Linked DNA regions of Homo sapiens: all the other regions are reported to be linked to region 4. The links are microRNA targets in miRTarBase. Many come from high-throughput screens and were not tested one by one. Region 4 holds a microRNA gene; each other region holds the end of a gene's coding sequence.

The links. The annotated mature microRNA hsa-miR-1245a reads AAGUGAUCUAAAGGCCUACAU and lies in region 4 at 1,065-1,085, opposite strand. An mRNA with a match to its seed (bases 2 to 7 or 8) in the 3' UTR can be bound and repressed. Matches are read on the target gene's strand: a 7mer-m8 pairs with bases 2 to 8, a 7mer-A1 pairs with bases 2 to 7 and ends in A, and an 8mer does both.
Region 1: the mRNA of BRCA2 is a reported target of hsa-miR-1245a. Seed matches in the 3' UTR shown: 8mer at 687-694.
Region 2: miRTarBase lists ZNF432 as a target of hsa-miR-1245a. Seed matches in the 3' UTR shown: 7mer-m8 at 2,234-2,240.
Region 3: the mRNA of RICTOR is a reported target of hsa-miR-1245a. Seed matches in the 3' UTR shown: 7mer-A1 at 1,684-1,690.

Annotation. Positions count from the first base shown.
Region 1 is chr13:32,398,500-32,402,499 of GRCh38, forward strand. It overlaps BRCA2 (BRCA2 DNA repair associated), which reads left to right. Exons shown (of 27, transcript NM_000059.4): 27 at 1-1,769. The coding sequence ends at 271. It overlaps N4BP2L1 (NEDD4 binding protein 2 like 1), which reads right to left. Exons shown (of 5, transcript NM_052818.3): 5 at 2,224-4,000. Among named protein-coding and RNA genes, the nearest start is that of N4BP2L1, 28 kb to the right of the region's middle.
Region 2 is chr19:52,030,438-52,034,437 of GRCh38, forward strand. It overlaps ZNF432 (zinc finger protein 432), which reads right to left. Exons shown (of 5, transcript NM_014650.4): 5 at 941-4,000. The coding sequence ends at 3,283. Among named protein-coding and RNA genes, the nearest start is that of ZNF614, 4.1 kb to the left of the region's middle.
Region 3 is chr5:38,938,542-38,942,541 of GRCh38, forward strand. RICTOR (RPTOR independent companion of MTOR complex 2) reads right to left here. Exons shown (of 38, transcript NM_152756.5): 38 at 1-3,837. The coding sequence ends at 3,763. It also overlaps a transcript of OSMR not described here. Among named protein-coding and RNA genes, the nearest start is that of OSMR, 95 kb to the left of the region's middle.
Region 4 is chr2:188,975,066-188,979,220 of GRCh38, reverse strand. MIR1245A (microRNA 1245a) reads right to left here and starts at 1,129; the gene lies at 1,060-1,129. All of the region lies in intron 1 of COL3A1 (collagen type III alpha 1 chain), which reads right to left. MIR1245B (microRNA 1245b) reads left to right here and starts at 1,060; the gene lies at 1,060-1,128. All of the region lies in intron 1 of LOC105373791 (a long non-coding RNA gene), which reads left to right.

The DNA.
Region 1 (4,000 bases), not on the chromosome of region 4:
TGAAATTTCTCTTTTGGAAAGTAATTCAATAGCTGACGAAGAACTTGCATTGATAAATACCCAAGCTCTTTTGTCTGGTTCAACAGGAGAAAAACAATTTATATCTGTCAGTGAATCCACTAGGACTGCTCCCACCAGTTCAGAAGATTATCTCAGACTGAAACGACGTTGTACTACATCTCTGATCAAAGAACAGGAGAGTTCCCAGGCCAGTACGGAAGAATGTGAGAAAAATAAGCAGGACACAATTACAACTAAAAAATATATCTAAGCATTTGCAAAGGCGACAATAAATTATTGACGCTTAACCTTTCCAGTTTATAAGACTGGAATATAATTTCAAACCACACATTAGTACTTATGTTGCACAATGAGAAAAGAAATTAGTTTCAAATTTACCTCAGCGTTTGTGTATCGGGCAAAAATCGTTTTGCCCGATTCCGTATTGGTATACTTTTGCTTCAGTTGCATATCTTAAAACTAAATGTAATTTATTAACTAATCAAGAAAAACATCTTTGGCTGAGCTCGGTGGCTCATGCCTGTAATCCCAACACTTTGAGAAGCTGAGGTGGGAGGAGTGCTTGAGGCCAGGAGTTCAAGACCAGCCTGGGCAACATAGGGAGACCCCCATCTTTACAAAGAAAAAAAAAAGGGGAAAAGAAAATCTTTTAAATCTTTGGATTTGATCACTACAAGTATTATTTTACAAGTGAAATAAACATACCATTTTCTTTTAGATTGTGTCATTAAATGGAATGAGGTCTCTTAGTACAGTTATTTTGATGCAGATAATTCCTTTTAGTTTAGCTACTATTTTAGGGGATTTTTTTTAGAGGTAACTCACTATGAAATAGTTCTCCTTAATGCAAATATGTTGGTTCTGCTATAGTTCCATCCTGTTCAAAAGTCAGGATGAATATGAAGAGTGGTGTTTCCTTTTGAGCAATTCTTCATCCTTAAGTCAGCATGATTATAAGAAAAATAGAACCCTCAGTGTAACTCTAATTCCTTTTTACTATTCCAGTGTGATCTCTGAAATTAAATTACTTCAACTAAAAATTCAAATACTTTAAATCAGAAGATTTCATAGTTAATTTATTTTTTTTTTCAACAAAATGGTCATCCAAACTCAAACTTGAGAAAATATCTTGCTTTCAAATTGGCACTGATTCTGCCTGCTTTATTTTTAGCGCTATCACAGGACCCAGAGCCTATGCCCTTTTAAACTTACCACAAAAGCAGAAGATTAATTCAATTTAAGATGATACTCTCATTTGTTACGTCCTTTTTTTTTTTTTTTGGAGATGGAGTCTTGCTTTGTCGCCCATGCTGGAGTGCAGTGGCATGATCCTGGCTCACTGCAGCCTCCACTTCCCGGGTTCACGTAATTCTCCCACCTCAAGCCTCCCTAGTAGCTGGGATTACAGGGACGCACCACCATGCCCAGCTAATTTTTGCATTTTTAGTAGAGACTGGGTTTTACCATGTTGGCCAAGCTGGTCTCAAACTCCTGATGTCAGGTGATCCATCTGCCTCAGCCTCCCAAAGTGCTGGGATTATAGGCGTGAGCCACTGTGCCCGGCCAATATTTGTTACTTTCTTAGGTTTAATAGAGAAAAGGGATAAAACATTTCTAACTGGGAGTTAATTGCATGGAGAAGGTCTTAAATCAGATGTTTTAATGCCTTAAATGTCTGTATAATATCATGTTTTCAAATCTAATTATAAATACGTTTAAAGCCAAGAATAAATCTTTTAAAAAATTGACTTGTTTCCTTCCATAACTCTGAGCCATGATTTTTCTGTTCTGTAAAAAGCATTAACAAAATTGTCTATTTTGCTACTCCCTGTAACTTAAGTATTCTGCAAGTCTTATTAATGAGACTTGTTTTGTTTCTAAAACAGTTTGGTTTTCACATCCTAATTTTGCAGTGATCCACTCTAGAACAAGGAATAAAACTTGGGTTTCAAACAGGAGAACAGAAAAAATTACAAGAATTTAACCTTTTCTTTTTTGAATCCTTGGTACAACTGCTATTGTCTGTTCTCATGTAGAACACCCATTATGTTGATAGATATGTAATGCGCACACTTTTTTATAAATTATAAATAACATCCAAGCTACATGAAACAAAATATGAAGCTTGAGTATATGTGCATATTATCCCCTCAAAAGTGACAATTTAATGACTACAAAGTCAACATACTGCATCATAAGGGATAATGGTAAAAATTTGTGTTATTTATTCAGCAATCATTTAATGAGACCCTATTGCCCATAAAGAGCATTTGCCAGTTCTATGAATGATGCAAACAGCGAACACAATACAAGTCAATATTGGGTGTTCAAAGAGTTACACAAATCAGAAGCCATGGGAGTTGAAAAACAGATCACTTCTACAGGGGATAAAGTTGATGGCATTTAATCAATTTTTATGGTTTACAAACCAAATATTTCAGGGGTCAGCTAGGGAAAGAAGAGACATTAAATAGGCCAGGAAACTATTCTTTAGAGCTCTAGAAAAGTTATGTAACCCAGAGCCACTTCTCCATAGTGGTCACTCACTTAACCCAAGTGAGCCAAAAACCCTAAAGCAGGGAGCCAGCCAAGTCAGGAGGGCTTGAATCTGGTCCTTTGAACCGCTCATGTGAAATCAAAGGATGGTAATTTCCACTTTGAGCTCTCTGACATTTCTCCCCTCTACCAGCCCAGACGAGTCAAGCCATCCATATTGAGCTGGTTATGCCACCACCCTATCAACCAAGATACCCAGGACTACCTGGGCCTGGAAAATGGGAGCATTATTAAGTAGATCATTAGGAGATTATTTTATGTTGTGCTTGGAGATACAGAAGTTAGCAAAGCTGATAACACCTTAGATTCATTGGGATTTACTATTGTCAGCCAAACTTACTCAAAGGAGATACCAGTTTTTAAAATGTTAGTGAAGAAAACATTACACATGGTGTTGGTAGTCATGGAGATGTCGAGCAGGTTTCAGTAGTGTCAGATAACGTTAAAACAGTCTCATGTACACAGATCAAATATATAAGCAACTAAATTATAAGGCTGCTTTTGTCATTACCTTTACGATTCCTATTTATTAAAAAAAAGACTGGTAAATAAGCCTGTGATACAGAAAAACTGGTATATTGTTGAGTTTCTTGGCATTTAGGTAATTAAATTTTTTTATTGTTGAACCAAAAAAAGATCCAATGACAAATCCATATAAATGTGATACCATTTACAATTTTTAATAACCATAAAAGCACCATTATATAAGACACTTAAAATAATTTTTCACAGAACATTAGAAAGAAGCTGTTGGCCAACAAGAAATAGAGCATACGTCCTCTGTGGTCTTGTCTATCATGATCTCACATTAAATCTGATTCCAACCTGTTGGAAATTAATTTGGATTCATAAATTCAGCATCAGTATAAGAAGACATTCCAGAGTTGTGAGGACTTGATTGTCTTAATGCCACATAAAACATCAACTGCTCATTTTGTAATGAGCATGGCTTTTATATATCCCTGTATGACCTATATCCTGGGGTGCCTAATTTCTTGCACTCCCAAACATTTGAGCTGCCGACTAATTACACATGTTAATAGGCATAATTTTAGAAGTCGTTTATTCCTTTTAAAAGTTAGTGTTTTATGAAGGCAGGCTTATTTTATTTACACTATTAGCACAACAGCCAAAAGTTATTCAGGTTTAATCCTGCTGAATAAAGTAGTAAAAACACAAGGCGTGACTTTAAATAATGACACTGATTTCCCTCAGTAGCTCCTGTAGCTATTAAGGATTTGACAGCATTTTTAACAATGATACATCATTAAAATAAAGAAATAACTTCCCAAAGTGTCTACTTTGAAGGACAATGTTCCCTTAGATGTATGCTTTCTGGCATATTAACATTAAAGGAAAATCAGTATCATAAGAGTCGCACATCTCACATTTTTAGATACATAGATTATCAAAGTAGCAATGG
Region 2 (4,000 bases), not on the chromosome of region 4:
TAGGCTTTGGTTCAAATTATATCTGCACAGAAAAGCCTATCCTGAAAACTCTTCCTAAAATAACTCAGGTTACAATCTATGAACTTACCAGGCTTTATATTTCTTCCTAGCACTTAACTGAATTCGATTTTGTATTTATCTTACTCAGTCTCCTTCACCAGACTGTATGTCATATCAAAGCCAGCACTTTGCCTGTTTTGTTCATTGATGTGTCTCCATTGCCTACAACATGCCTGCCATGGTGTAGAAGCTCAAAAAATATTTTCAAAGAAGTAAATTACTCAATATGGAGTCAGGGATTGAATTCTGCCACAATACTATATGGCAAATGTCTATTACTTTTATAAAGAGAACTCACCATTTATAAACTGGATTAAATCTCATTAGATCAAGGGAAATAACTCTGGATAGAGAAAACAGGAACCCTGTTTCTAGGGAAACTAATAATTTTTTGCCACCAGGCCTGCTCAAAGAGAAATGATTAAGGAAGTTCGCACAAAAAGGAAATAACTAAAGGAAATATTACATCAGGAATGAAGAAAAAGGAACAGAAAGGGTAAATATATTATAAAATATAATATTCTTTTGAGTTTTAAACATTGGGTTTGCTGGTTGGAAGCAAAAGTTACAATTTTACTTGATATGGTTCTCAGTGGATGTAGAGATGCTTAATATCATTTTGTGTTAGGGGTGTGTAAGTTGAGGCCATGATCATATACCACCACACACCTAATAGGAAAGCTAAAGCACACTGGCAATGCCAAGAGCTAGAAAGGGCATGGAATGCTTACACATTGGTGGTGGGAATGTAAACTAGTACAGCCACTCTGGGAAAGAGTTTGGCCATTTCTTATAAAGTTAAACACATTTACCATATTCGCCAGCAGTCATGCCCCCAGTGTCTATCCCAAATATATAAAAACTTAACGTTCGCACAATATCGGGTACACAAATAGTCACAGCATCTTTATTTATAACAGCAAAACACTGGAAACAACCCAAATGTCCATCAACAGTGAATGGATACACAAACCCTGGTGCATCCATTTAAAAGAATACTAACTCAGTAACAAAAATTAAAACTATTTAGACACCTAACAACTTGGATAGATCTTAAGGGTAATTTGCTGAGTGAACAAAGCCCTATCTCAAAGCTTGCGTACCTTACGATTCCATTTTAATAGCATTCTTGAAATAACAAAATTAGGGTAATGGGATCAGTGGCTACCATGGGTCATATTGGGAGGACAGTGTGAGTATAAAGAGGTAGCAAGAGGAGGCCAGGCGTGGTGGCTCATGCCTGTAATCCCAGCACTTTGGGAGGCTGAGGCGGGTGGACCGCCCGGGGTCGAGAGTTCAAGGCCAGCCTGGCCAACACAGTGAAACCCCGTCTCTACTAAAAATACAAAAATTAGTCGAGCGTGGTCGTGGGTGCCTGTAATCCCAGCTACTTAGGAGGCTGAGGCAGGAAAATCTCTTGAACCTGGGAGGCGGGGTTGCAGTGAGCCAAGATCGTGCTATTACACTCCAACCTGGGCAACAAGAGCAGAACTCCGTGGTTTTTATTATTATGGTTATGTAAGATAACATTGATGATGCTAAGCAAAGAATACTCAGGAAACTTTTGTATATTTTGTAATCTCTTGTGAATCTAGAATTATTTCAAAACAAATTTTAGAAAAATAACATTTAAGGCATTTTTGTAAACTACATAATGGTACCTAGTAACTTGGATAAACACATCCAAATATACTGAATTACATTTATCAGTAAATTGAAAAAAATAAATTTGGGGCCTATAATATGTAAGAACTAATAAATAACACCAGATTGGCACAGAAAACACCTGTGTTATATATAGGATTAAAATTTAATCAGTGATAAGAACAGCCCGCTTTACAATTATGGAATCATTGATAATATGATGCAAGGTATGCTGTCACAGAATAGATATCAAGTGTATCATGAGTTTAGATTTGTGACAGTCCTCAAATATGGTTTTTTTTTTTTTTTTTTGAGGCAGAGTTTCGCTCTTGTTGCCCAGGCTGGAATGCAATGGCGCAATCTTGGCTCACTGAAACCTCTGCCTCCCAGGTTCAAGTGATTCTCCAGCTTAGCCTCCAGAGTAGCTGGGATTACAAGCGTGAGCCACCATGCTCGGCTAATTTTGTATTTTTAGTAGAGAGGGGGGCTTCACCATGTTGGTCAGGCTGGTCTCGAACTCCCGACCTCAAGTGATCCACCCACCTTGGCCTCCCAAAGTGCTGGGATTACAGGTGCAAGCCACCATGCCCGGCATTATGTATCATTTTCATGAGACTTTTTTACTTCATGAATTTCCTGATCCTTTTTAAAGTTACTCTTCATATAAGTTTTATTTCTGTATGAAGTAATGATGATGAGGCAGCATGTATCACTGAAATCCTCGTGTATTCACTGCCATCTGAAACTTGTTCTCCAGTATGAAATATATCTGCCAACTGTTAAGGTTTTATTTCTGGGCAAAGGCTTTCCCATGATAATGCTGCTAGTATGTGTAAGTTCATTGATGATCTATTATGATCACTGAAGAGATAGGGTCTTTCTTCCCATAGAAGGCTTTCCTAGCCTACTCCTTTGTAAGATTTATCTCAGTAAATACTTTTCAAGACATAGTTACTTAGAAAATTTTCAAGACTTTTCTGCATTGGATGTATCAAGTTTATTTCCTACATGTTTATTGTGACATAAAATATGAGGTAATTAATCACCGAAGGCACTAGTGCATTCTCTGCATTCATTAAAATTCGCTCCTGGAAATTGCATTGTCTTCCAAGGGTGAAAATCTAGCAACAGGCTGCTCTACACTGCCTATATGCATGTATGCTAGGAGCACACTGCTGTTTAATCAGTTCACATTACTAACGTGGTTTTCTCTCTGCATGAATTTGTTTGTATGTAATCAGTTCAGATTCTCTGCAAAAGGACTATGTACCTTACACATTTGTCATGTGGACGTTGTCATAGTTTTAATGAAGGTTGACAAATGAAAGGTTACCCCCAATCCACAGACTCTCTCTCAGATGAGTAATTTTCTATACATTGGTACATCAAAGAATTCAGAGCCTGAATTCATGTTGAAGCCTTTCTGACATTGATAGCATTCATCCTAGTGAATAACACTGGATTTTGAAATATGATTTTTCATACTCAGTACACATGTAGAAAATCTATACTGTGAAATCTCTGATGTTGTACAAGGCAGATTTTCTTCCCAAAGGCATGAACATGTCCACTGCATTGTCAGGGTTTGTTTCCATTATGAGTTCGCTGATGTACAATGAGATTTCTCTTTGAGGAGAAGGCTTTTCTACATTCACTGCATACAAAGGGTTTCTCTCCTGTATGAGTTCGTTGATGAACAATTAGACGGCTCTTCATAGTGAAGCCTTTACCACATTCATTACATCCATAAGGTTTTTCTCCAGTATGAACTTGCTTATGTAAAGCAAGCTCTGTTTCCTTGGCAAAGCCTCTTCCACATTCACTACATATACAAGATTTCTCTTCTGTATGAATTTGCTGATGTACAATGAGATAGCGTTTCATGGTGAAGCCTTTTCCACATTCACTGCACATAAAGGGTTTCTCTCCAGTATGAGTTCGCTGGTGTACAACAAGATTGCTCTTAAAGGCAAAACCTTTTCCACATTCATTGCATATGTACGGTTTCTCTCCAGTATGAGTTCGCTGATGTAACATCAGTCCGCTATTCACAATGAAACCTTTCCCACATTCACTGCACCTGTAAGGTTTCTCTCCAGTATGAGTTCGCTGATGTACAATCAGCCGACTCTTCAAGGGGAAGCCTTTCCCACATTCACTGCATGTGTAGGGCTTCTCTCCTGTATGAGTTCGCTGATGTATGATGAGCATGCTTTTCACAGTAAAACCTTTTCCACATTCACTACATAGATATGACTTCTCTACTGTATGATTTCTCTGATGTACAATAAGATTA
Region 3 (4,000 bases), not on the chromosome of region 4:
ATGCATGCTGTGGTGCAGCTATCCGATACTTACATTACAAAAATACTCCAAACAGGAAAAAAGTCCACATTCTGTGAGTCATATAAACCTACTAGGAATGAAAAATACCCTGGAACTTGGAACTAAAAGAAGAAAAGAATGCTCCTAGAAAGATTCTCACAGATTTCAGTGTTCTTTGATAAGCACTGCTATTAATTTCACTGGTATGCTTTTAAATGAGATTCTCACTGTAATGACACTCTTGAGATTAAGATAGTAACAGTGTATTTTGTTAATGCAGAGACAATGGAGACTTCCTAACTTACATTTTGGAAAATCTGAAATGTTGGTTCATTCCAAATAGCTCCTCTAACAAAAGTCTCTCAATTTTACCTTTTCTTTTTTCCCCATGTTTTAATGGATTGTGAATCTGAGACAAAAGTGGAAGCATAAGACTAAAGGAGAAAAAACCTTACTTCCAAAGAACATTTCCCAAAGTAGTTTACAAAGTTCATCTCACACAAAATTAGCACCTCACTCTTACCATGCAAAAATAACTGCAGTTATAATTTGAATGACAGACAATTTGGTTTTTATTGCTTAATGATCTGTGCTTTAATGTGGGGATAAAAGGCATCCTCTGAATGGAATAACATTTTATATAAATAGCAGTAGGAAAATGTAAATAAGCATTGATATCCCACTGCTGAACACTTGGCCGTTGTGATATGCCCTGAAAAACTCAGCTTGAATTATCTCAAGCTCTAGATAAAAGAGCTGAAACCCATTAAAGTTGTCATTTCAAAAGGACTTGTACACATTATGTTAATAATGTATATACTTCCAAAGAGCCTCTTTTAATGTCACTGTCATATAGAATGTCCATATTCTACTAATCGTTATTAGAAAAAATTTAATTAGGGAGAACAGACTGTTTCCCCCTTCCAATCTACCTAAGAATAAACAGGAAATAAAAGTATAGGAAATTTTAGAGCATATTTAATTATGAATACTAAATTTCTAATTTCCTTATTTATCAGTATTTACTTAGTATGTGAGGCTGAAATCTGTTCTTGAAAAAAAGTTCAATTAGAAATAACAATTCACTTTACGATTAGAAATTCATAGTTTACAACCAGCACAACTGCCCAGATTCCTCCCAATTATTCAATAATTACCAATAGTACAAATTTATATGGACTAAGATTAATCCTAAAATCTTTAAAAACTACAGTATTGACATTATTTTGGTATTCTATAGTCTGTAATATCTATTATTTATAGATGATTTTCTCAATTATTTCTATTACTGCTGATATCATTCCTAACCTCTTCTGCTATAATTTAATATTTTTAAACACTTAAGTTAATCACTTGGCACTGCATGTATTTTTCACCATAAAGTCTACTTTTTACAAACAAGTACTCAAAGAAAATGTATTAGACCTGTCAGTGAAATCATGGAGAAACCAAATAGCACTATAAATTTAAGCGTAGACTTTTTTTTTTTTTTAGTATACTGATAACCACAAAGCTCTGAGTATCTCCCCAAAGTAAGTGATATAGGCAGATATGATAAGGTATACATACATATTTTTCAAAGTAACAGTAAAAAAAAAAAACAAAAAAAAAAACACAAAACATTCAGGCCAATACTAACTAAGCCTTATTTCAGGATAGATGACCAAGGTGAGGGTACAGGGATAGTGATGGTGGGGGAGGGGGTGTGTGTGTGTGTAAGACAAAAAAAAAATTACTGTTAACTTTTGAGGGATTAAACCACAGATTTTTATACTCTATATTAACTGAGGTAGTGTTTAAAATGAATGTCTAAAATATGTTAATCCCATTATGAATAAGATTACATTACTTCCTTTGGAGGTTTTAACCACTATTTGGTCTAGTAACTCTGACATTTGGTTCTCTGGAAAGGCAGTTTAGTTATCCAAGACCAAAGACCACGATGACAGGCAACGTTCTTAGAAGTACTGTTGACATTTAAATAAACACTTGGGTTCAGTGATAAAGTATAAAAAAATTATTTATCTTCAACTGGATTTTATGAGAGAAAATCTGAAGAACCACTTTTCAACATAAGCAGCAGCTTACAGCCCTTATCTGCTTTGTTATAATGTAAGTTGCTACACAGTGCACATAAGAACAATTCACTGAAGTGCAGTCAAAGAGGTGTTATGAAGTGAGATGAAATGCTTCATCCCAACTGGAACTTTCAGTTCCAGTAAATAAATTTTTTAAAAAAGTATCTCTGTGAGTTATGTTTTCTAGTTCACAGGGTTCTTTACAGAGATCTCAAAGAACAAGCCCATTACAAAAAGGATCTGCATCATGGGAAAATATTAATGTTGCTATGACTGTGTCAAAACTGATGTGTAATTGTAATAAAAATGTTATACACAAATGAATTAAAAAAGAATCCTAATCAGTCCAGCTGGATTTTCTATTTCTATTTATATATAGATCTCAAAAAAGATAATCCTTTCATTTACAAGCATTCAAATGATGGCCATGCTATTTTTATATACAAATTTGCATATATGTTTAATTCCTGTAAAAAGTTCCAAATACCTTTAGACATATACAAATTAAACAAACAAAAACCTTGCCCTCATCAACTTAACTTCACAAATGGATAAAGGCAATTAATATACTCATAAACCCACCTACCACTGCATTTAGTTTGTGCAAAACAAAAACACTGATATAAAAATTAAGTTACTGCTGCTTTAAAATTTGGTACTTAAGGCTTTTCACTACAATTTTTCTCAATAACAAGCTTTATTAATGTTTTTTTTAAGGAAATATGGCTCTTCTTTCCCCATGGAATGTGTAAATTGCAAGCAAACTTATCTTTTCCTCAGGAGATCCAAAGTATTATTTAATGCTTTCCTATCCTTTAGGTCTAAACTAACAGTGCTTGTTCAAGTTCCTGTTTAAAGCGATGAGATGGAAAGTTGATGAAAGTGGAAGTCCATTGCAAATATATGCATTCTATAAATGGGAAATATTTTTAATTAAAATAAAAAATGATTTTTAAATTTTATTCAAGAACTGTAGTGAAAAACCTTAATTGGTTCATATATCCTGTAATAACACATTGCAACAAAATGAAGAGTTGGAAAACAAGAATCTTTATGCAAGTCTAGTAACATAAAAATAACTTATAAGTCCCGGGTTGTTGAGGCTCTTCTTCTGCTTTGAGGTTATAAACCTCTGAAGTAGTGTTACAAACATTAAGAAAAACGTGAAAGGGCCAAAGTTCCCTCTCTAATACCAGCAGTTATAGCACACCCCATTGTGGTAATAGGATGCAGCCTTAGAGACACTGATTCCTGCTTTCCACAAGTTAGTTAACAAACAAGGCATCTGTATTATTTACCCTAAAAATCATTCAGAAATAACTTGTGAAGGGTGCTTCTGCATATCCCATTATTGTTCCACTGTCATTATGCTTTTAAAATGAAAGAAAATAGAAAACCTATGTAGGTATTCAGTGCTTGGCTCTTGCATACAATGGTAACTGAAACTCTTAAAACTGTGGTAATGAATCATGAACCCCTCAAAAGGCTCAACAAAGGAGAGAAGGAAGTTGTTTTGGTTAGGAAAGTCAGCAGTTCCAACTGTTCATGTACCAGTAACTGCGGAACAGTGTACAGAAGATACTCCTGTCTTTGCTGCCTAGTCAGTCGTATTTTCTGAGGCTTTTAGGAAATCCACAAATATGAATATATATAGTATGTATCTATATCCATCATAAATATGAGGTCAGGATTCAGCAGATGTATCAACTATAGGTTGCTTTGGTGGTGTTGCCAACACAGCCTCTGCTTCTTCATGCATCTAGGGAAAAAATGGTGTATCATCAATTACTTTTATAAAAACAGATGATATAACATATTTATATAAATATCTAATTTTTTTTTTTTTTTGAGATAGGGTCTTGCTCAGTCTTCCCAGGATGCAGCACAATGTTGCCATCTTTGTTCATTGCAACCTCTGAGTC
Region 4 (4,155 bases):
AATACTATAGAAAAACAGTTTCAGAAAAATATATGCCATTTTACTGAAGCAGTACTTTCTTAATACTAGAATTCAAGGGAAGTTTAACTTTTAATAATTTCTGGATCTTTTCTCTTTGATGTTTACATCTTTTGGGCATTTTGACTCGTCCTCTTTCAACGTTTCATTTTGTTCATTAAGACTACATTTTAAACAGCAGTGCTTGACCTCAGTCATGGAAAAAAACAAGGGTTTTATTAGTTAATCTGAAAGGAATCCACTTCTGCTGTGTTTTCATTAGACACAGACTGAAACTCTGGTGGTTAATGTAACTCCCCCAACTGCAGTTCACAAATGATTTATGTAAGAATAGCTATCTCATTTTTTCCGTTGTCATCTTGACATGAAACAGGCAAAGTTTCCCCTTTGAAAAGTCTGGAGAGTTTTTTTTTACACTATATGATCTTTTTTTTTTTTTTTTTTTTGAGTGTGGAAACAATGGGATTGAGCTTTTATCTTAGGGAAAACTTTTACAAGAAACAGTTCACTGAGAGGGTTCCAGAAAGTTATTGTAGACCTGGAAACTTTACAACTGTTCCTCATGTCCAGCAAAAGCAATAACATCTTTCATCTTTAAAGCTTTAATTCTTTAAGCAATCTACTTTAATCACTTCAAGGCGGTGATATCATTAGATGTTACAAAATTAAAGAGCTGGGCTACATAATTTTTGGAACTCTGCACCAAAGAAGCCATTCACAATGGAAACTGTGGAGTTTCGGTAGATGGCACTCTTTTCTCTGAGTGACAACTCAAGGTCCAGCATGTGACCGTAGATGTAGAACAGGGGCTTTCCTGAGGAGCTGTCCTTTAGCCTCAACTATAATCCTGGTAAACTCACAGCCAATCATTCTTGATTTTTAAAAAGAAGCCTGTAGATAAGACATCAATCCAGGAATCTGAAGTAGTTAAGAGGCATTTAATCACAGTCTTTCCTTCTTTCCCAGAATTGTTCCAGTGGATTTGCTTTCTTTTCTTGTAATGCTGAAATGTTTAATTCCAGAATTTAATAAAAATACCTTTTTATATGTAGGCCTTTAGATCACTTAAAGAGTATTCAACATCAGATGATCTAAAGGCCTATACATAAATAGGTAGTTTTGAAAATCCAAATTTTTCAAGGCTCTGTTATTACCTGAGCATTTTTCTTTCCCTAGAAAAAAAGCTCAGGTAAGTAAATACAAGGTATCATGGATGAAAAACACAAAGTGTTATAATACTTTATTTACTCACACAGAACTGGTGATAATTTCTTTTAAAATGATAAGATCCTGAGCTTCTGGGGTTTAAAAAAATTAACGTACTACTCTCTATAAAATTGAATATTAAACAGAAAAATACCTATTCTTTTTTCACCTTTAGAAATGCATTATTAGTTCATGTACTTTCTAGGACGATATATAATTTTTTTAGTATCTCCTTTCAATGACAAATAGTTACAAAATTAAGAAAATTCAAATATCTGATTTTAATGTGTATTCTATAATTATCTAAGACTGAACAGAATATTGGTCCTAGCCTTGACTCCGTCATTTTCTAGTTTTGTAATCTCAAATAAAGCACTGATCCATGTTAGGTGACTGACACTGAGATATGTGAGCAACTATGCATTCTCTCCCTTTAAAAGTGCAATTGTTCCTAAATGTATGTAACCTTTTCCTGTTAGTTCAGTGTGTTTAATTGTAGGGACAAACACAAACCAGAAAACTTGAATGTTACCTGAGCAAGTTACAAATTCCCTCTTAAAGCATAATGAAAAAAATATACTCTCATGACGTCTAATAAGAAACTGATTCTCTGAGTCCATTTACAGTTTTAAAATTCTAAAACAACTAGAGGCCTACAGTTTATTTTACTGGAATTATCACTGTAGCAAAATATAGAAACTCAAACATTAGTACACATTTAATTAAAATAAAGTTTCTGTTTCTGCCCTAATGGAGCAGTATTACTTAGTAACAGCTGTCTATAATCTATCTAACAATTAAGCAGTGAATAAAATACTTATGTCAAATAAGGACTACATCAGAGACATGAAAAATGTATTTAAACAATAGTCATATGTAGAATTTTTAAGTGGCCGTAACATTTAAGCTAATTTCCAAAAAGACTCTGAATATTGTTACCATTGTGTTTTCGTGTCAGTATATGTGTTTGCAATATTTATCCGTAACATACTAATTTCCTTAGGAGAGCAGTGTTAACATTTAAAATTCACGCATATGAATTTTTTAAAGCTCATTATAAACTACCAAAGCCAGCTACATAACATTAATATTGGCATTCGTTATGTAAATGGTAACCTGGCTTGTCAGCCACTAGGTGACGCATCTTTGTACTTAAAACTTGGCATGTTTATAATCTACAGGAAATATAAAACAGACTATGTTTCTCCATTGGTGGATTAAAACACATGAATTAAATACAATGTTCACAAATTTGTAAGACGACCAAAATTCTTTTTGAGGACTTGTTTGTATCCAGAAAATGCCTGTGAGTGAACTAGAAGTGAGTGTTCATTAGAGCTGTGCCGTCTCTGAAGTTATGAGGGCATATATAAGAAACCCCACCCCAGAACTTTATGACAGCTCTCAGTGTGCTGTATATTCAGATACCTCCTGTAACTTTTCCAAAGCTTATCTAATAGCAGAATTTCCTTGTAAAACCCACAGGGAACATAAGATGTACTGTCTTAAGTCACTTCAACTTTACTTTTACTCATGACAAAAAAAATAGGCTGAACAGTTCTCTTTCAACTCTTTTTGAGCTTAAGAACACACAAACACATATCAGCAAAATTTTATACTTATTGATTATTTTTTGCATCTAAAGAGAAAGAGGGAAATAAACAGAACTTAATGTGATGTCAAGGTACTGTAAGTGGCAAACACCCCCCCACTAAAGTTGGATTGGGAAGAAAAATAGCCACAGTGCTTATAAAAAGCTTGCAACCACGAGGCAACTACAAATATGTTGCAATTTTTTGAGCTAAAACCCCTAAGTTTGTAGTCTTTTCAATAAATGGTTGGTGGGGGATAGTAGTCATTTGGTATCCTAAAAAAGGACTGTGAGTTGTAGCATCTCCTGGGAAGAGCAGGATAGGGAGGAAAAGGGGAGAGGAATGAGAAAGGAAGAAGGATTGAGAGTTCAGGGGAAAGAAAGGGTGAGGAGGCAAGGAGAGAGAGAACTAAAAAAAAGAAATGGAGGCATAAGGAGGCCACATGGGGAGTAGGGAGGGAGTAACAGGCAGGGAAGACAGAGGAGGAGAGAGGAGTAGATATGGGCTTGCCTAGGAAGGGGTGGGGTGATGAGTGAAGAGAAGTCTAAAGGAGCCAAAAGGGGTGGAGAGAGATAAGGAGGAGGGCAAAGCGAAGGAGAGGAGGGGTAAGGAGGAGAGGAAATTAAGGGAACAAGGAAAATGGGTGTTTCTTTTCTTTTGTGTCCATGGGCTGAATATAACTGAAGACATTTCATTGTATATCTACCCCTCCCCTCATACACACATTTACATGTATTAGCTATGAGGACAACAAATACATTTGATATTACAAACAAAAACCAAATTTTCATGCAGTGTCCTTTGCAAAATCTATATGTTTAAATGTAACCATGTTTAGTTATGTGCAATAAAAATTGTCTAATAATTTCTCCTAGCTATCTTTACATTTAGCACTTAAATATTTATTTCTATGGAAGTTTGTATTCCAATTTGTTCAGCATTTTCATGACTATGGTAAATAAAAGAATATTTTCACATAAATAATGAGACAAATGTGTTTTTAGGGGAAATTAGAATATGAAAAACATTACATGCAATTATTAGAAAATATAGCAAAACAGCTTTCTGAAGTCAAACAGTACTAGTATCTTTACCTTGTTTGCAGCAAAGTCAAACCTCCTGTTGAAACATTTTAAAAAATATTTTCTTCATTAATGCGAATGTGGTTAAAACGTAGAATATGTGGAAAATATTAGTCCCTTAATATCAAGCTACTAGAAAAGATGAATTAATCAATCATTCTTGAAACAAAATAAAAACAGGAATAATAAAATATTTTAGCAGTTTGATCCCTTTGAAGAATGTTTATAGGTATCTTGTAGCCATTTTACAGAAATAT